Linked DNA regions of Homo sapiens: region 1 is linked to region 2. Evidence: fine-mapped expression QTL. A gene starts in region 2. The other region holds a variant in brackets. All regions are shown on one strand. Distances are from middle to middle. Region 1 overlaps CIC (capicua transcriptional repressor). Region 2 holds the start of MEGF8 (multiple EGF like domains 8).

Region 1 (2,898 bases), 38 kb before region 2:
ATAAATCTAGAAACCTTTCAGGGAGGAGTTTTTCCTGAGTGACGTTGCATGGACGAGTCCAAGAGGCTCTGGTGTTGGGGGTGGGGGGTAGACAAAAGGGGTGGGGCTACCTCATCTAGGGTGGGGAAGAGCTTGAGTTGGGGTTGGGGCCAGGCTCTCCTGCTGCACAGCTCACCTGGCTCCTTTCCACAGTGTGGACGAATGTGGAACCTCGCTCTGTGGCTGTGTTCCCTTGGCACTCCTTAGTCCCCTTCCTGGCACCCAGCCAGCCTGACCCCTCCGTGCAGCCGAGCGAGGCCCAGCAACCTGCCAGCCACCCAGTGGCCTCCAACCAGAGCAAAGGTGAGGGCTGGTGGGGACTGGGGGGAGGCAAGGGTGTGGGGTCCAGGTGGCCTAGGAGCCCTCTGATCTACCTCTGTGTCCCCAGAACCTGCTGAGTCGGCAGCTGTTGCTCATGAACGGCCACCAGGTGGGACAGGGAGTGCTGACCCTGAGCGGCCCCCTGGAGCCACATGCCCTGAGAGCCCAGGACCCGGACCCCCACACCCTTTGGGGGTGGTGGAATCTGGTAAGGGTCCGCCTCCCACCACGGAGGAGGAGGCCTCCGGCCCCCCAGGAGAGCCCCGGCTGGACAGTGAGACAGAGAGTGACCATGATGATGCGTGAGTTCCCTGAGGCCTGGGACTTGGGGGTGGGATGGCCAGAGACATGGCCCTCACTGTCCCTGCTGCCCCGCCGCAGCTTCCTCTCCATCATGTCTCCTGAGATCCAGTTGCCTCTACCGCCCGGAAAACGTCGGACCCAGTCCCTCAGTGCCCTACCCAAGGAACGGGACTCATCTTCTGAGAAGGATGGACGCAGCCCCAACAAGGTACTTTATCCCTGCCTGTCCTGTGCTCACCCCGTGGCCACCCACACCTGTCTGCCAGGTCCTAACTGTCCCGCTCTGGGCTGTGTTTAATGCAGCGGGAGAAGGACCACATCCGGCGGCCCATGAATGCCTTCATGATCTTCAGCAAGCGGCACCGGGCCCTGGTCCACCAGCGTCATCCCAACCAGGACAACCGGACCGTCAGCAAGATCCTGGGCGAGTGGTGGTATGCCCTGGGGCCCAAGGAGAAGCAGAAGTACCACGACCTGGCCTTCCAGGTAACGCTGTTGCCTCTTGGCTCCTCCCAGCTTCTTCTGGTGGGGTGGGTGAGTGAAGGGTTGCCCTGCCCTCTCCTGCCAGGTGAAGGAGGCCCACTTCAAGGCCCACCCAGA[T/C]TGGAAGTGGTGCAACAAGGACCGAAAGAAGTCCAGCTCAGAGGCCAAGCCCACGAGCCTGGGGCTGGCAGGAGGGCACAAGGAGACGCGGGAGCGGAGCATGTCGGAGACGGGCACTGCTGCTGCCCCTGGGGGTTAGTCAGCCCCTTGGCTCTCCCACCCTGCCACCTCCCTCCCCGAGAGCCACCAGCTACCCCCTTGCTTGCTCCTCCCCTGCCCCAGCAGCTCCTCTCTGCTCTATCGCTTTAATTTGGCGACCCTTATCCGTAAAGGAACCGGCAGTTGATTCATGTGACGGAGCCAGGGAGATCCACACAGATACTAAGATTCCCAAACAGCAATCTCGTTATCAACTGTTGTTTAACGAGTGTTTACTATGTGCCTGGCACTACAGGGAATATAAGCTGTAGTCTGCAAAACCCCATTCTATTTCTAGAAGAAGAAACTGAGGTTCAGAGAGGCAAAATCACTTGCTTAAAGTCATAAACAAGCAAATGACAGAGCCAGAATGTAAACCCCAGTTCGGCGGGCCCCCAGCACCATAGTTGGGGCCACTGCAGCTCGCAAACACCCCTGATGGGCTGCTTCCACTTATTGAGGTTGTCTGGTGTGCCTGGCGGTGTTCTGGGGCACATTTTTGGAGTGAGCCTATGGGTATGGCAGTTCTGTGAGGTTAGATGGATAGTTGCTATGGATATGCACTTCTATGAGAGTGGGGACACTAGTTACTTCCTCTTTGAGATGAGGGAACCGAGGCTCAGGCCAGCGGTTGGCTAGCCAGCACCACATGAACCTCTCTCCAGGCCTCCTTACTTTCAGGAGGGCTGCCCCCCAGGGAATGGGCCTGCTGCAACCCCAGAGGGCAGGAATCAGCAGGAATGAGATGCTGGACTGGTGGTGGGTGGTGGTTTTTTTTTTTCACCAAGTGGCCCAGAAATTCCAGCCTGCTTCTGCCTAGTACCTAGAAATATCTATGGGTTGTTGGGCCAGTCTAGGTGCTGGTGACAGGCTTACTGACTGTCATAGCGCCACTCTCTACTTTACAGTGTCCTCTGAGCTCCTGTCCGTTGCAGCCCAGACACTCCTGAGCTCAGACACCAAGGCTCCGGGGAGCAGCTCCTGTGGGGCAGAACGGCTACACACAGTTGGGGGACCTGGCTCAGCCCGGCCCCGAGCTTTCTCCCACAGCGGGGTACACAGCCTGGACGGCGGAGAAGTAGACAGTCAGGCGCTACAGGAACTGACGCAGGTCTAGGGTGCAGGCCCCCTAGTGGGGGTGGGCAGGGAACCTGTCCAGGGCAGCAGCCCCGCTGAACCCTCTCTGCCACCTATCCTGCAGATGGTGTCTGGCCCTGCATCGTACTCTGGCCCAAAGCCTTCTACCCAGTATGGAGCTCCAGGACCCTTTGCAGCCCCTGGTGAGGGAGGTGCCTTGGCGGCCACTGGGCGGCCCCCGCTGCTGCCCACCCGAGCTTCTCGTTCTCAGCGTGCGGCCAGTGAGGACATGACGAGTGATGAGGAGCGCATGGTCATCTGTGAGGAGGAAGGGGATGATGATGTCATTGGTGAGCATTGCAGGGCCCAGAATCTTGCCCAGGACCCAGCAGGCCAAGGCTCAGAGGGTGGGCAGAACTT
Region 2 (2,898 bases):
GAGTACCTGGCCCCGCTGCCCAGGCGCCCCGCCACCCAGTCCTTCCCTGACTGACAACGTGCGTCCACACCTGGGGTGGAAGGGTTCTCCGGGGGAGGGGGACGGGCCTTCGGGGCCGCATCTGCCCCCCGAGGGTCCCGGACGGCCTCTGACCCTGACCCCCCTCCCAGGCCGGGAAGCAGGTGGAGGAGACAGCGGTGGCGGCGGCGGTGGCCCCGAGGGGCCGCGTGGTGACCATGGCCGAGCCGGGCGCAGCCTCCCCCCCACTTCCCGCTCGGTTCCCCAAGGCGGCCGACTCGGGCTGGGACGGCCCGACGCCGCCCTACCAGCCGCTCGTGCCCCAGACGGCAGCGCCGCACACCGGCTTCACCGAATACTTCAGCATGCACACGGCCGGGGGCACTGCACCCCCGGTCTGAGCACCCCTGCCCGCCCCTGCCCCATGGGCCATGACCGGGCCCCGGCCGGGCTCCGGACCCCTGCTTTATCCCGGCCCGAGAGCTCGCCCATCCCCGGCCTTCCCGACCCTTCCCACCCCGCGCGCCCAGGTTGGGTACGCTGCGTCCCGCCCCCCTCCCCTCTGTGCCAAACGGTCCCGCGGGAGCCGCTCTCCCCGTCCCCTCCCTCAGCCCCTGCCCCGAGCGGCGCCGGATTCTGGGCTCCCGCTGTTCCGTGACCTCCGGCCCCCTGGCCCCCTTCGAGACCTCTGACCCCGCTGGACTCCGGAACACCCGTGGTGACCGCCGGGACCCTGCCTGTGACTCTCCAGGACTCTGCGACCCCGGGATGGATATTGCGATGCTGGTCTCGACCCTGAAACCCTCCCTCGGATCTGTGACCTCGGACCCGTACTCCATCTGCCGCATCTCCATTCCGGGGGCCTTCCCTCGGGTCCCTGGCAGAAAGACATTTTACCCCTTCTTGCCAAAATAAAAAAGGATTCGTTTTTATCTATAACATGGCTTCTTTTGCATCTTGATGGTGTTCAGCGGCGGGGCTGAGCCAGAACTATGTCAGGCTCGGGACCTCAGTGTGTCCATCTGTGAAATGGGAATTTGGAACCGGAGGCAGGGGCCTGTATAACCTGATCTTTATGTTGCCCCAGAATGTGGGAACATTGAAGATGATCAAACATCTAGCAGGGTCTTGCACCGCTCCTTTATTTTTGCCTTCCTTTCCTCACTCAGAGGTAGAGGCGCCCTCCAGTGGCCCATGCTTTGCTGAACCACAGGCACCCAGAGTTTGGGTTACGATCTTAGCACTGCGCATATGTGTATTTCTCTCCCTCCAGGAGGACGCTGCTGCGCATGCGGTTGGGAACAAATGGGCGGGGATTTCCCCGGAAGTCTCCCTTTATGGAGGGTTGGGGTTGGGCGCTCCGCAGTCCTCCCAGGGCCGCTCTGACCGGCCGCTCTGTAACTTCTCGCCTCCTCTTCGCCGTCCCTCCCACAGCGGCTGCTCGGCTCCCGCCCCCTCGCCCTCCCACAGCGGGTCTTCCCGCGGCCGCTCTGGCCCAAGCGTCCCCTCGTCTCTCTGATCTGGCCCATCCGGCTTCGGAGGGAGGCGAGGGTGGGTGAGCAAAGGGATTGGGTCTGTGGGGTCCAGGCCCGAACCCCTGAAGACGGGCTCCGCCCCCGGCACCCGCTCGCGCCCCGCCCCCGGCTGGAGGAGTCTCTCCTGGACCATCCGAACCTAGCCTGTCCCGGCCCGCAGCCTCTATGGAGGCTCCTGCCGGGCCGTAGAGCCCTTCGCCCCCTGGGGACCCACCCGTCTATAAGGTCCGTTTGGCCTGCAGCAGCCTGAGTCCGTAATGCTGGGCACTGTTCATGGGATCGGCCCCCTATGGAGCCCTGTGTCTATAGGGGACTCCTACGGTCCCTAGGGTTCGGCCCCGTCCATAATGACTCCATATACAGGGCCTTCCATCGCTCTATAGGGCTCAGCCCTCGGCTTCCAGAGCCTGTCAGCAGTGGCCGTACCCTTCGCCGGGACTGCCGGGTCTCCGGGACCTCTTCGATCTACAAGGTCATGTTATGCCTATAGAGGTCGCATTTGCAGGGCCTCACCCCGGGTAGAGGGTCCTCTCCAGGTTTTTACGGCCTGTCCCCGCTCTAAGGGTCAGTGCAGGAGGCGGCGATGGCCCTGGGCAAGGTTCTGGCCATGGCACTGGTTTTGGCCTTGGCCGTGCTGGGGTCGCTGTCCCCTGGGGCCCGGGCGGGGGACTGCAAGGGGCAGCGGCAGGTGCTGCGGGAGGCGCCAGGCTTCGTGACGGATGGTGCGGGCAACTACAGCGTCAATGGCAACTGCGAGTGGCTCATCGAGGGTGAGTGGGGCCGCGTGGGTCACTCACTAATTCGCTGGTAGTTCATTCATGTGTGCATTCATCCACTCACCACATTCCCAGAGCTCGGTTCTGGTCCAGGCCTTTTGCTCTAAAATGCCTGACACCCAGGGTTGCAGCCAACCTGGGCCCTGCCCTGGAAGGCCTCCAAGTCTGGTGGGGGAGATGCACCTACACCCAGATTTACAATTACAAGACAGGAGCATCAGTGCCGGGCCTTCTGAGTAACTGTTAAGAACTCAGGGTCTGGGTCCAATCATTTGGCTTTGAATTTGGTTCTACTACTACTACTTTTTTTTTTTTTTTTTTTTGAGATGGGGGCCTCACTCTGTCACCCAGGCTGGAGTGCAATGGTACCAACACAATTTACTTACTGCAGCCTCGACCTCCTGGGCTCAAGTGATCCTCCCACCTCAGCCTCCCAAGTAACTGAGTGTGTAGAGACAGAGTCTCACCATGTCGCCCAGGCTAGTCCTGAACTCTTGGGCTCAAACGATCCTCGCACCTCAGCCTCCCAAAGTGTTGGGATTGTAGGTGTGAGCCACTGTGCCTGGCTT

The links.
Region 1: its variant is fine-mapped to the expression of MEGF8 in whole blood (TOPMed, PIP above 0.99).

What each region holds. Positions count from the first base shown.
Region 1 is chr19:42,286,579-42,289,476 of GRCh38, forward strand. It overlaps CIC (capicua transcriptional repressor), which reads left to right. Exons shown (of 21, transcript NM_001386298.1): 3 at 193-342; 4 at 428-662; 5 at 742-871; 6 at 967-1,149; 7 at 1,232-1,397; 8 at 2,310-2,512; 9 at 2,603-2,828. Among named protein-coding and RNA genes, the nearest start is that of PRR19, 14 kb to the right of the region's middle. The variant T/C (reference allele first, on the strand shown) is at 1,264.
Region 2 is chr19:42,324,108-42,327,005 of GRCh38, forward strand. MEGF8 (multiple EGF like domains 8) reads left to right here and starts at 1,528. Exons shown (of 42, transcript NM_001271938.2): 1 at 1,528-2,323. The coding sequence starts at 2,137. It overlaps TMEM145 (transmembrane protein 145), which reads left to right. Exons shown (of 15, transcript NM_173633.3): 15 at 630-957. The coding sequence ends at 710. RefSeq lists silencers at 1,454-1,643, 1,684-1,823, 2,044-2,113, 2,124-2,193.